Linked DNA regions of Homo sapiens. The protein of the gene in region 1 purifies or fractionates together with the protein of each later gene. This does not show direct contact. Each region holds a gene or a part of one and is shown in the gene's direction. Other genes may lie near its edges.

Region 1 (7,858 bases):
AACAAGTTGTTTTCCTGTGGCACTTCTCAAGGACCTTGCCCTCGCCCCAACCCCATTTTAGAAAATAGGGCTGAGATTTAATATGTGTCTGTCACAGATGTGGCTGGTGGAGAAAGACTAAGCCAAAAGAAAATCAGCACAGGTAAACACTGCACTAGAGGTTGGAGAAGCTAAGGTTTCTGGAAGACCAGATTTCTGGACCTCTTAGTCCAAGGGAATAAAGGATAGGGGGAAGAGTTGGTGAAAGACAAACACACACACACACACACACACACACACACACACACAAAGCAGTTTACAATACAGTGAGACCGAGCAAGGTGACTCATGCCTGTAATCCCAGCACTTTGGGAGGCTGAGGCAGGCAGATTGCCTGAGGTTGGGAGTTTGAAACCAGCCTGGCCAACATGGTAAAACCCCGTCTCTACTAAAAACACAAAATTAGCCAGGTGTGGTGGCTCATGCCTGTAATCCCAGCTACTCAGGGGACTGAGGCAGGAGAATCGCTTGAACCTGGGAGGTGGAGGTTGCGGTGAGCTGAGATCGCGCCATTGCACTCCAGCCTGGGCAGAAAGAGTGAAACTCCATCTAAAAAAAAAAAAAAAAAAAAAATATATATATATATATATATATATATATATATGCAGTGAAGACAAGATAAAATCTGGGGACGGTGGTTGCCAGGACAGGGCTCTCAGAACAGCTGGAAGCTGGAGTAGGGAGGATGGTCTCAGCAAGGACTTCCCAGAGCAAATGAAATTTGGGCTGAGTCTCAAAGAAGCCAGTCCAAGTGCTCTGTAAGAAGGACCAGCCAGGTCATAGAAAATGAAATACAAACACCCAATAACCAAGCAACAATGAAATACTACTTTTCACATACTGTATTAACAAAATTTAAGATGCTTGCTGCAGCCAGACCTGGTAAGTACTTGGGAGATAAGCTCTCAATACCAACTCAAGGGGGAGGGAGGAGGGGCGGAGAGGAGATTGGTGCAGGCTTCTTCGAAAATAATTTGGAAGCATCCACCCTTTAACCAAGCAATTCCAGTGCTAGAAATTTACAAGAGGAATATGCTCTCAAGCGTTCACCAAGATATATGTACAAGGAAGTTCACCACAAAACGTGGAAACATGTCATGTCTATTCATTGATAAAATAATGTATACTATGTCTACATAGGAAGAAATATGATACGGCCCCCATGGCGCACGGAAAAAAAATGAAGTCCTCTCTTAAGCCCTTCTCCATTCCTCTTACGCCATTTATGTAACAATATGGCTCTAAAATGACTTGCTTGAGCATGTCTTCCCCACTGAAATTGCAGATTTTTGAATGCAGGAATCTGTCCTTTTATGTCCCACACAGAGACCTTTGGCAAATACAGAGTAAGTTTCCAGTTGCAATTTGTAAGTTTGCCAGTGAAAACAGAAAGCCATTAACTTGTTAATGAAGTGTGGCCAGGACACATTGGGTGGATAATGCTTCCGCAGGAGTGTAGCTCAGGTGTTAACAGAAGCTAAGCTTGATGAAATTAGAGGCCCCAGCATTCCTCAGCTGGAGGGTACATACATATACAGAACTCCCCCGCCCCCTCTGCTCTCTCTTATCTTCTGGCCTGCCTGGATGTTCAAGGGAACAATGACAGAGGTAAGACCTAAGTGCCCTATGATAAAAGAAGGCTTTTACCTTGAAATACTGTCATTGTAGTGCAGACATGGCATTCTTTTGTTAACTCTTTGGTTGGAATTTAGTTCTACGTGTTCTCAACTATTTAAACAAGGTCGAATTGGCTTTTGATAGCTAAAATTGATCCCATTCTCCAAGTTTATTTTCTTCCTTGAATTTTAGGCAGACACAGGAAGTCTGTCCTTTGATTATGATGTATTTCATTCCACCATTCTTGTTTGGATGGTTTTAAGTCAAATGCTTATTTGTGTGATTTTTAAACACAATTCTGCCCCAGTTTTTAATACACAATGTCTCAAGGGCAGTACCAAGAAATGGCCAACACCAAGAGCATTGTTTTTCATTTTCTGCTCTCAGTGCCTTTTGTAAGGGATGAGATGGGCTGCCTGTGATTGGGGAACCCCCGTTGCACAGCACTTCCCAATCCTAGGCCTGACCTTTTGACACAAAGCACTCATTGGCCTGGAGGCTGGCCAGCAGCCCAGTTTCAACAGTGACCAAGCAGAGGTGACCAGTGGCCATCCTAGGGTAGCCATTCAATTCCCCCACCTGGAGGCAGCAACAACTTTTTGCAGTTAGTACAATTAGAATCAACAATTACTGTTCTTTCTCTCCAGCCTCACAGTGGGGTTACTTCTCACAACTGTTTCTCCAGCGCCAAACTCCAGTCTACAGGCCGCCCAGTAGTAGACATCAAATACCTGTTAAATAGCCCTTACATCTCCAGCCCAACGGCAAATATCTAACCTCTCTTAAACACCACAGCCCTTCCCTTCCCCTTCTCCCCACCCCCCATCCCAAAACCTGGCCCAGGCTCTGAATACCCTGGATCCACTTGGCTTCCTCTGCAGTCAGTACCTATGGGGAATGGGAATCTCTTCAGGGGGTTCTGGTCCTTAGAGAAGGGATTTTGTGTGGCTGAAAAGCTGGCATCCTGGGGTTCTGGTCCCGTCAATGACAACATCGCCAGACTGGAGACCTCAGTTACTTCCTCTGAAAATGCAGTGATTTCCAGGGGTCCTATTTAAGCTCTAAAAATTCCACAAGAGCTTTAGATAAGGAAATAGCAACGCAGGGGTGTGTTCTTTTGCCAGTTCTGCCACAGGCCTGCCCAGTCTCTAAAGACAAGACATCCAAATCCCCCAATAGAACTAGTTGTCTTGTCCATAAAGTGAGACTAATATTGTGGGCGCTACTTATCTACTTAGCACCTTGGACTGGTGAGGACTGTGGTGCACAAGCTACCTTACAAATGTACCACACTGAGTAACATCTTTAAACCTCCTTGCAGCTCCAGGGCTAGCCTTCTCCTTTGCGGAGCCCTCCCCCACCTCCGGCCTCCTAGAGCTTCAGGCCATGTTCCCCTGTCCCCTGTGAATCTCAGCATGCTACCTGAAGCATTTCACCTGAAAAGGCCACACAGGGAGGAGGCGAAGCGCAGCAGGAATGAAATAGTCAACTGCTGTGGAGTTGGAAATGTTGCTGCATCCCACCATTGACTGGATGGGGCCTCACTCCCCCAATACAAATTATTTTACGTTTGCTTCTCCCAAGATCATGTGTAAGGCCGGGCGCGGTAGCTCATGCCTGTAATCCCAGCACTTTGGGAGGCCGAGGCGGGTGGATCATGAGGTCAGGAATTTGAGACCAGACTGACCAACATGGTGAAACCCTGTCTCTACTGAAAATACAAAAATTAGCCGGGCGTTGTGGCGGGCGCCTGTAATCCCAGCTACTCAGGAGGTTGAGGCAGGAGAATGAGGCAGGAGAATCACTTGAACCCAGGAGGTGGAGGTTGCAGTGAGCCAAGATCGTGCCATTGCACTCCAGCCCGGGTAACAGAGGGAGACTCTGTCGCAAAAAAAAAAAAAAAAAAAAAAAAAAAATCATGTGTAGAAGTAAATAACACCTCTTCCCAGCACCTGTGGATCCATGGCATTCACACAGGTAGGCACTGACGCTGAAATGGCCTCAGATGCTACCAATTCTTTCTGCCGAGGCCTAAATCCAATAAACAGAGATGGATGGAAACAACTATCTAATAAAAGTTTCGCATTTGTGTGCCTGGCAACATTAAGTAACCGTCAGGCTTTCCTTTAGAAATTGGAATTAAATGCGATTTAGAAACTATTAACGACTTTGGGCGTATTTAATAACACATGAAATAACCCGGAGGATTGAAATGTTAGGTGAGGCGACTCCGGCTCATAGACGCGCCTCTCCATCTGGGGCGTCTGGCACTTAGTGGAACCACTCAATAAACACGTTTACCCCTGCAAGCGGCACATCAGAGTCCGGGGGTAATTCTCGGTGTCGTGGGGCCAGGACGGCGAGGGGCTGGAAGAGGCCGCCCTGTGGGAGCTGGGAGGCTGAGATAAATTCCCGTGATTGGGGGCTGAAATGGCCTCCCATGCCGGACTGCCGTGGTTCTAGAACTTTTTCCTGGAACAGGCCGGCACTCCCACTGGAGAGTCCCAGCTGCTGCGCCTCTGGCCGCCCCTCCCCTCTCCCGGGCACCTGGCGCCGGCTCCCGCGTCCTTTCAGGAATTCACGTCCGCCTGGAATTTGCACTTCAAGTCTGGAGCCCCCAAGGAACCCCTCCTGACCCTGAACTTCTATCTCAGTTTCAAGCTTCCTAGTCTTCCCCACACACACACACCTAGCTCCTCAGGCGGAGAGCACCCCTTTCTTGGCCACCCGGGTATCCCCCAGGGGGAGTACGGGGCTCAAAACACCCTTCTGGAAAAACAAAGGTGGAAGCAAATTTCAGGAAGTAAAACTTCCTGAAATAAAATAAAATATCGAATGCCTTGAGACCCATACATTTTCAGGTTTTCCTAATTAAAGCAATTACTTTCCACCACCCCTCCAACCTGGAATCACCAACTTGATTAGAGAAACTGATTTTTCTTTTTTCTTTTTTTTTCCCAAAAGAGTACCTCTGATCATTTTAGCCTGCAACTAATGATAGAGATATTAGGGCTAGTTAACCACAGTTTTACAAGACTCCTCTTCCCGCGTGTGGGCCATTGTCATGCTGGTGGGCGTCCCGCCCACCTGAAAGGTCTCCCCGCCCCGACTGGGGTTTGTTGTTGAAGAAGGAGAATCCCCGGAAAGGCTGAGTCTCCAGCTCAAGGTCAAAACGTCCAAGGCCGAAAGCCCTCCAGTTTCCCCTGGACGCCTTGCTCCTGCTTCTGCTACGACCTTCTGGGGAAAACGAATTTCTCATTTTCTTCTTAAATTGCCATTTTCGCTTTAGGAGATGAATGTTTTCCTTTGGCTGTTTTGGCAATGACTCTGAATTAAAGCGATGCTAACGCCTCTTTTCCCCCTAATTGTTAAAAGCTATGGACTGCAGGAAGATGGCCCGCTTCTCTTACAGGTATGAGCTAATCTTGAATGTGAACTTTTTTTGATTGCTAGAGATTGCCAGCTTAGGAAGTAATGTTCTACACCTGTCATTTGATTTTTCTCTTGCTCAAGCCTTAAAAGAGCTGCCAACCGCACTGCTGTTTTTCCTGAAAGACCTGGAATTTCACATGGTTACTTCTAACTTTGCCATTGGCTTTTAACATTTTCGTGTTAATGTTAATTTTCATTTTATGTTAATGACTCTGCCTATGAAATAGTGTTTCTTTATTCTTGTACAAATAAAGGTCAGTACTACAACCAAATTTAAAATCTTCCGAAAAGATTAAAGGTATAAGCAGATTCAATACTTGGCAAAACTATTAAGATAATAGCAAAAAAAAAAAAAAAAACCCACATTTTTTACCTAAAAACCTTTTAAGTGATTGGTTAAAATAGTTTGGCCGGGTGCGGTGGCTCACGCCTGTAATCCTAGCACTTTGGGAGGCAGAGGCGGGTGGATCACCTGAGGTCAGGAGACCAGCCTGGCCAACATGGCAAAACCCCGTCTCTATTAAAAATACAAAAATTAGCCAAGCATGGTGGCGGGCACCTGTAATCCCAGCTACTCTGGAGGCTGAGGCAGGAGAATTGCTTGAACTGGGGAGGGGAGGCAGTGAGCCGAGATCGCACCATTGCACTCCAGCCTGGGTGAAAAACCGAAACTCCCTCTCAAAAATAAATAAATAAATACAGTAGTTTGTAAAATGATTCATCGGTAACATGGGATGCAGCTATTTTTTAATCCTTATATGAAAATTGTATGCAGGGGAAAACATGTGAAATAGAAGATAAAAGACATATACCTACTTAAAATTAGGTACTTATGTGAGGACAGGGCCTAAGAAATAATAATATATATTAAAAAGACTTGGATATTGGTGACTTTTTTTCAACATTTTTCTTTGTTACATGAATTAGCCATTAAAAAAAGAAAGATGGTGCTCTACAATTTCTTTTCAGTGATCTGTGGTCTTGTCCTTGTGATGAGAGGACCTGGGTGTTAACTTGTAAGGTTTTATTTCCTTTGTTTGGCTAACTCATGTCTGACTTCCTCTTCCTAGTGTGATTTGGATCATGGCCATTTCTAAAGTCTTTGAACTGGGATTAGTTGCCGGTGAGAGACCTTTTGTTCTTTTGATCACTCTCAATTTTTATGTGGCCTAAAATACAGACTCCATGAATTGATTTTGTCGTTAAGGGCTGGGCCATCAGGAATTTGCTCGTCCATCTCGGGGATACCTGGCCTTCAGAGATGACAGCATTTGGCCCCAGGAGGAGCCTGCAATTCGGCCTCGGTCTTCCCAGCGTGTGCCGCCCATGGGGATACAGCACAGTAAGAACTGCCTGACTTCGATGCTTCTGCCCTGGCCCTTCATGTGTCTCCTGAGTATCTTTCCAACACTCTTTCACCTAAAAGGGCACCTGGTTCTGGAACTGTGCAGGTGCTGGACTGCTTTTGGTTTTGGAAGTGAGACAAGGATTGTGTATTTTACTTCCCTAGAGTGCAGTTTTCCTCCCCTGAGTCCACTTCACACTGGGGAACCCAGAACCACCACTGGCCTATGCATGAAAATGACTTCTCTGCTCAAAGGCACAGAGACTTACTCTGATACAACACATTGGTGTTGTATTAACCTTCGCTTACAGGAATTGCCCTTGCACTTTTCCATCCCTACACCCTCAGTCATCTGTTCTTACCTTTCAGGTAAGGAGCTAAACAGAACCTGCTGCCTGAATGGGGGAACCTGCATGCTGGGGTCCTTTTGTGCCTGCCCTCCCTCCTTCTACGGACGGAACTGTGAGCACGATGTGCGCAAAGAGTAAGCAATTCAGAGGGGCGGGGAGCCGTGGAGAGGAGAGAGAAAGGGAAGTGGAAATTTCAGACCCAAGGCTATCGCCTTACCTGTTCATTCTCAGGAACTGTGGGTCTGTGCCCCATGACACCTGGCTGCCCAAGAAGTGTTCCCTGTGTAAATGCTGGCACGGTCAGCTCCGCTGCTTTCCTCAGGCATTTCTACCCGGCTGTGGTAAGCGGAGGTTCTCCTCTTTCTTTTGCCCTTTGAAGTTACGTAGTTGCCTTGGGGGGTGCTTAGTTAGCAGGCTCTCCTTGTACCTCTTGTCTTGCTAGAGCCTGGCAGCCAAAGTTCTGCTTATAAAAGCATCGCAGACTCCTGATGAGATAGTTGCCTTGGCCTCTTTGATATTTATTTCCTCGGGAACCTGGCTAGTCCTGCTGCCTTTCAGATAGAGATGTATTTCAAGTCTATTTGACATTTTATGGTCTGAACTTCTATTGAGGAAAATAAACAAGTCTCGGTCTCTTGTTAAACCAAGAGATGTTCTCTGGTGTTCCTTTCCTTTGGGTAGGGGGACCCAAACCAGGATGGGCAGCTCATTTAGAGCCCACCCTGACGACAAATTCTATCAGAGGCTTGGCCCCTTGCTAGTCCTTTAGAAACTTCCAGAGTCCTAAAAGTCCCTGGTAACCCCCTCCCCATACCTTACCATGACTGGTCACAGAACCCTTACCATGACTGGTCACAGAACCCTTTCACCTTCTTGATTTTTACTGATTTGAGGAATACAATGAAAAGAAGGGCAGCACCTGGAGAGGAAAAGAGGCGACAGTCCTCTCTCCACCCTAGCCTGAGCCAGGTTTCTAGGGCCCCCCAAATTCAGAGACCTATTATAGTTCTGGGCCTTGGAGATGTTAGAAATGGAAAATATTCAAGTCCAGGAAGTAAATGAAAGCAAACATTTC
Region 2 (6,962 bases), on another chromosome or scaffold:
GCTGTTTTTTTCTGTTTTGGAACAACACATTTTTGTAATGCTTGTCATGATGATTTTCAAAGAATGACTAGCATTCCTAAGGAAGAACTACCACACTGTCCTGCAGGTATGCTTTTAATATTTTAAAATCACGATTATGATCTATATACCATAGTTTTATGTAAACATTATATGAAAGCTCTGTTTCAAGTGACAGAAACTCAATTCAAACTAGCCTAAAGAAGCAGGAGGAATTCCTTGATCCTTGTAAGCTTATGACTTTCTGGGTGAATTAGGAAGCAGGCTCATCATCATGAGTGAGAAGTTAGCTGTGACGGAGCAGATCTCATGGGGAGTGAGAATGAAGTCTACTAAGGATTGGTGAAAAGATGGCTGTTCAGCACTAAAAAGTCATATGAAGTTCAATATTACAGAACCATTTAAAAGGATTCTGTGATTTTTTTTTTTTTTTAACGAAGCCTGGAACCGTTGCCATAAAATGAACCAAGTGATTTAATCTAGAATGGCTGGGAATCAGTAGTGTAGTGAGCATCAGAAAGTCAAGGGAATTAAAGAAACCACTCAGAATACAGGAGAAATTATTGTCTATGGAAAGCAGGCTGAGGGGAAAGAAGTATGAAACCAAAAAGAAGCTGAAAATACTGGAAGAGGACAGGAGGCTAGTGGCAACGGTGAGGTGGAATACCAGGCTTCACGGAAGTGAGAGAAGTGGAAGGAGAGGTCCGTGCAACCATAGGAGAGAATTTTACATAAGATATATCTGAAATTAGTGAAAATACATGCACAAGTACATACAACACAATATACCGTGTTGTCAAAGCTAGAAAACACACACTGCCATCTGCTGCCTATCAGAGTGCAAGTGATAGACCTCTCCGGAAAACAGCTTAATAGTGCCTCTCAAAATTACCAGCGTATCAACCCTTCAGCACTCCCTCTTCAGGGATATAGCTACAAATGTGAGGACAGTAAAAAAGGGCAAATAAACAAGGTTATTAACTACAGCTTTGCTATGATAATAAAAATGTATAAACAATGCTAGTGTCCAGTAGGGTAGTGGCTAATATTACGCATCAGTTTAAAAAAAAAAAAGAGTGAGGATGGTGTTTCTGTGTGCTGATTTGGAAAGATCTTCAGGAGATAGCATCAGATGAAAAAAGTAAATTAGGCCAAGTGGTGTGACTGACACCTGTAATCCCAGCACTATGGGAGACCGAAGCAGGTGGATCACTTGAGGTCAGGAGTACGAGACCAGCCTGGCCAACATGGTGAAACCCCATCTCTACTAAATGTACAAAAATTAGCCAGGCATGGTGGCGGGTACCTGTAATCCGAGCTACTCACGAGGCTGAGGCCAGAGAATCACTTGAGCCTGAGAGGCGGAGGTTGCAGTGAGCCAAGATTGCGCCACTGCACTCCAGCCTGGGCGACAGAGCTGTTTCAAAAAAAAAAAGCAAATTGCAGAACAGAGTATGCAGTATGCTGCCTTTTGTAAGAGGGAAAATGAGACTATCTAGTCATATTTGTTTATATTTACATAAAGAAACCCCTGGAAAGATACTCAAGAAACTAATACTATTGATTAACTATTGGGAAAAGCAAGAAAAAGATGAGGGTAGAGACTAGGGAAAGTTGCTTCCAATTGTGTTATCATTTTTAACATTTTGATTTTAAACCATGTGAAACATATACTATCCATTTCAAAATAAAGATAAGTAGGGTTTTTTCAAGTATGACTACTTTTTACCATTTGCTCATGTCAAATAAAAATTGTTTTACTGTTTCTCCTCAAATACTGTTTTTTTTTAATAGAAGTAGCAGGCTTTGAAAGAAGCAAGGCCAGAATGATGTGAAGCCAGGTTATGGAGGATAATGGACAGAACAGAGATGTGAGCCATGCTTGGAGGGAGGGGGTGATGTGCTGGAGGTCAGCAAGTGAAGGGAGTGTGGAAAGGGCAGTATTCTAGATGACTCTAGATGACTTGAGCTTGGAGGAAGGGCAATTATTGAATGAAAGTTGTAGGTTGTGGTCTGGAAAGAAATAGGAGCCAAGAGAAAAATCAGTCACACGTTGTAGCCATATGACCTGGAGGAGCTTGGGAGATAACCAGCCTCCAGTTGAGAAAGATTTAAGGCAAGCAGTATCTTCAGGGGAAATCTAGATTTTACTTAAAGTTTCCTCTATGTTAAAAAACAGAAATAAGAATGCTAAAAATAAGGAAGTTAACAATGAAACACTTTAGAGAACTCAGTGGTGGGTAGTAGCTGAGAGAGGAGGGTCAGGTTTCCTCACAGGATCAGGGCAGCCAACACAAAGGAATCACAGGAGGGAGGCGGGGGAGGAGCCAGAGTTGGCAGAAGGAAGGAATGACCTCGGTCCTGGGCATTTTCACACATATTTGCTCCATTTTTACAATCTGCGAGTAGATGGTATTATCCCTATGTTATCAAATGGAAAATTGAGGGCTAGGGAGGTTAATGAACTGGCCTAAGAACATACACTGAGATTGAGGTATACTCTCCCAGCCTCACACATCCCTCTAACTCATCCATTCATTTAGAGAACTGGAATAGAATAAAGGAGATCCCACAGGGATGTGAGTAGGGAAGATGGCCATATACAGTTTACTTAGAAGGACAGAAGAAGCAATTCTCTAACCACTCTCAACCCTGTTAATTCTAATATTTTTAGATAATCAGTCTTCATCCATTCAAGCTGCTATAACAAAATACTGTAAACTGGGTAGCTTATAAACAGTGGAAATTTATTCTCACAGTTCTGGAGACCAGGAAGTCTAAGATCTAGGAATTAGCAGTCGAGGTGTCTGGTGAGGACCCACTCTCAGCCTCATAGGTGGCACTTTCTTGCTGTCGTGGAAGGGCAGGGGGCCTCTCCTGGGTCTCATTGATAGGAAGAGCACTAATCCCATTCATGGATTCCACCCCATGACCTCATCACCTCCCACAGCTCCACCTCCTAACACCATAACATTGGTGTTAATGTTGTAGTCTCAGCAGTGCACCAAGATATAACAGTCTCTCATTGTCTGAGATAATGCCAGGAGTTCTTTGTCCTACCTCCAAGAAGATTAAGGAGCACAGATACAAAGGTGAGGTTAGAGCGAAAGTTTAATAAGCAAAAGAAGAAAGCTCTCTGCCAGCAGAGAGGGGGGCCCAAACAGGATGCTCCCGTGAGGCTGGGGCCCAGGGTTTTTATGGACTGGAAAGGGGAAGGAATGTGCTTAGTCTGTGGGCTGTCTTGGCCCGCAGCGTGACTCAGCTTGGCCCGGGACCCTGGCCCAGGAACCCACTGGAGCCCACTGTGCCTATGCCCACAAAAGGAGAGAGCCCCCTGACTATACAAAGGACAAAGGCATTTCTATCCCAGGTCTTGTCCTTTATCTGATTGAAGGTTTTTCTGTCTGTGCAGCCGTGGGCATGTCTTTAGGCACAATGCCCTGTGCTAGTTCCCTCATCGGTGCCTGCAGCTTGACTTTTTTTCCCCAACTGCTTTTTATGTTATATGGGGATGAGGCACTGACCTGTGGACCTGGGGCTCTCTGGGGACCCTTCCCTTGCTATCTACCTAAGGCAAACTAACTCCTTTCATTAACACGTCAGTATATAAATTTGGAGGAGCACAAAAACATCCAGACCATAGCATAATCCCTCTATCCATTTCTTTCTAAAATATTTATTGACTACCTTCTCGTGCCAGGATACTTAATCTTCACAGCACCCCATGAGTTAGGTATTGCTGTGTCTATTTTAAAGATGAGGTATCTAAGAATCAGAAAAAATAATTTTACTTCAGTTTCATATCTACAAAATGAGGATAATCGTTTCTGCCTCCTATGACTGTTAAATGGTTAAGTAGCTGATATACTAGAACAGTGCCTCAGTAGTAAGCACTCAGATGTTTGCAGGTGTGTTTTCACTATTTTTATTTCTCACCACCATGTTGGATTGTGAACACCTTGAAGATGGGAGCCATGCACTTTTCATCTTTAATCCCAAGTACCTAAGAATGCCCTTCATATATTAGGCATGCGGTAAATATTTGTTGAGTAAATGACTCATTTTTTCCTTGAAAAAACCCAAGGGCTGCAGTTTGTGTCACCACCATTGATATGTTGTGTATCTGAACTAGATCTGCCATTGAGTGTCCCCATCCTGCGCACTCTCCCCCACCCACTGGTGGGGTGGGCACCAATCTGCAGTGTGATTTGGAGCAGGAGCTACTGAACTACTTTCTAACAGGAATAATTAACTTTCTAGCAAACCTCTGGCATCCTCCCATGCTGACCCATCCTGAGGTCTGTGCCTGCATTTGTCTGAGGTGGCACTCATTGCCACTCTCATGCCTGTTAGCTCTAACCTGAAGTTGACTTCTCTGAGATTAGCTGTCTTCAGTTTGACACTCTAATGTCTTGGTCTTACTCTTGTACAGAACTTACTTTTTATTCCTCTAGATCAGGCCTCAGTTTGTGGTTGTTCAGTAATAGTAGTAATAGCCAACATTTATTGGGTATTATACTGTGCAGTCTAAGAGCTTTATAAATGCTAGCCTTTTATCCATCATGGTTTCCTTCTCTTATGTCAGAAATGTTTTTAAACCTAGAAAAGGTAAAGTAAATGAGACGTCATTCCTCATTGATCAGTGTAAGCTCATTCCATCCAATCTCGTGATATTTTTCTCTCAAGCACAATCAGAATTTAGATTTATTATTTTGAAAACTAGCTGTAGAAAACTAATGCAGAGTTCCTATTCCTTCATCTACTATTAAATAGGGACTCTGCTTTCAAGTATAAGCCTAGCGTGTTTTTCTGACAAAGTAAGCCTCCTGGTTTCTAAAGGAACTAAAAATCTTTTCTAAATGATATGAAACCCATGACGTGAAGCACATTAATATAATAATTTTCTTTTTTAAAATACTGTTTTTGGTACATTTGATAGGCCTACTTTGATTATTATCAACAAATTCATATCTTCCCCAAAGTGTTTTTTCCACATTGTATTTTATAACATTGTTCATGTTTTTAACCTGATAACTTTCATTTTCCTGCTAATATCCTTCAGGTACTTTTAAAAATTACAGGAATCATTGGCCTTCCCATTTTACCAGTGTGGGCTTTTTCATCAGTAAAAATAAAAGGGAAAACATGGCTTCTTTAAACTTAAATGTTTTTACTTATAGAAAAACATTCTACACAAAAATCTCCCTGTTTTCTATTCAGAAAAATAATGTTCTGCCAGACTAAATTGAGGGGTTTTGTGACCTTTTTTGTTCATTACTCTGTTTTAAAATGATATATCTGATGCATTTATTAATAGAAAAAGATCTGTAGCTCGAAGTGATCCTCTCTAGGCAGGATATAGTGAGTAAGGGACCCCATCACTTCTTCCATTGTACATATCTGTGTTGAATTTTTTATAGTGAACATTTTTTACTTTTGTGATCAGAAGAAAAATTTCTAAATGTTATATTTGTATAACCATAGTCATGTTATTTCTTTGAATAACCTATCAGTGATTTATATTTCTGTGAGGTTTATATGTGTGTATTCTTAAAACATTATTTTCCTTTGCCTCCTTCAAATTTATACAGGTCCCAAAGGCAAGCAGTTAGAAGGAACTGAATGTCCACTCCATGTTGTTCATCCACCCACTGGGGAAGAGTTTGCTCTGGGATGTGGAGTGTGCAGAAATGCCCACACTTTTTAGAACACGCAGATCCTTTGTCTACAGAGAGAAAAATTGCCTTCATCCCCCAAGAGGATGCGGTGAAGTTTAAACTCTGCTCAGGATAAGGACGGGACCATTTTTACATCCATGAAAATGAACCATTCACAGTGCAAGAAGGATACCAAATACCATGTACATAATTCTTGCTATGAAAAGTTTCCCCATTATTTTGGTTTATCTTCTTTTGAACAAATGACATCAAACTTGTGAGGTGTTTGCATGTGGCCATTACCGTCATTGGCCTGTGAAGCATTGGACATTTATAGATAATTGATATAAAAGAATCGCCATGCCCATGGACTAAGAACGATGCTGGCTTTCAAGCAAAAAAGAAAAATAATCATTGTTTATTGTATACTGCCTTTTTGTAATCCTGTACAATTGCATCACGGGTGGGGATAAAAAGAGGAATATTCTGGTTTATTTCCTAGACTGTTATTTAAAAAAAAAAAAAACATTGTGTTAGGACAGCATATAAATGTAATAAGTATCACACTGTATATAAACATATCAATGTTTGTCCTGTATAAGAATTACTAAATTACAAATGCAATTTCATTTAAACTTCTAGGTTAAGTTTGAGCCTGAAATTTTAATGAAGTGCAATACTGAGTGTGCCTCATTATCTTGCAGCTGTAAACATATTGGAATGTACATGTCAATAAAACCACTGTACATTTTTATACAGTGATAAAGTCTACCACTGTGGGAGGTATTGTTTAAAAAACAAAATTTGAACACCTTTAAGGTCTAAAAGTCCAGTTTTCCTCAGAAAGAAATTTACTAACACAACACATTCATAATTTTCAAAACTGTTAGAGAAAATAAGAATAGTAATGAAGTGCAATGTTGGAATCTTAAACCCTAAGCAGAAGATCATAAATATATATATATATATTCGTAGGTAAATATATTCATACCAAAGACAGAAGAAAGCATTTAGGAAATTAACTTCTATTTTAACTAGCAGCATTTTTAACTTTATTTATTTATTTATGAGACAGGGTCTTACACTGTCACCCAGGCTGGAGTACAGCGGCGTGATCTCAGCTCACTGCAGCCTCCAACTGGGCTCAAGCGATCCTCCAGCCTCAGCCCCCTGAGTAGTTGGGACTACAGGCATGCACCAGCACCATGCCCAGCTAATTTTGTAATTTTTGTAGAGATGGGGTTTTGCCATGTTGCCGAGGCTGGTCTCAAACTCCTAGACTCAAGC

Evidence for each region. The genes of interacting proteins can lie anywhere in the genome.
Region 2: the proteins of CRIPTO (region 1) and MYCBP2 purify together in Homo sapiens (affinity purification with mass spectrometry; 3 studies listed by BioGRID and IntAct, with this or other methods). This does not show direct contact.

The regions. Positions count from the first base shown.
Region 1 is NC_000003.12:46,572,937-46,580,794, forward strand, and holds the start of CRIPTO (protein Cripto isoform 1 precursor), read left to right. Parts: upstream 1-4,851; 5' UTR 4,852-5,033; coding exon 5,034-5,068; intron 5,069-6,158; coding exon 6,159-6,211; intron 6,212-6,295; coding exon 6,296-6,430; intron 6,431-6,802; coding exon 6,803-6,917; intron 6,918-7,014; coding exon 7,015-7,124; intron 7,125-7,858. UniProt on the Homo sapiens protein: GPI-anchored cell membrane protein involved in Nodal signaling. Cell-associated CRIPTO acts as a Nodal coreceptor in cis. Shedding of CRIPTO by TMEM8A modulates Nodal signaling by allowing soluble CRIPTO to act as a Nodal coreceptor on other cells.
Region 2 is NC_000013.11:77,044,141-77,051,102, reverse strand, and holds the end of MYCBP2 (E3 ubiquitin-protein ligase MYCBP2), read left to right. Parts: coding exon 1-106; intron 107-5,609; coding exon 5,610-5,725; 3' UTR 5,726-6,446; downstream 6,447-6,962. UniProt on the Homo sapiens protein: Atypical E3 ubiquitin-protein ligase which specifically mediates ubiquitination of threonine and serine residues on target proteins, instead of ubiquitinating lysine residues.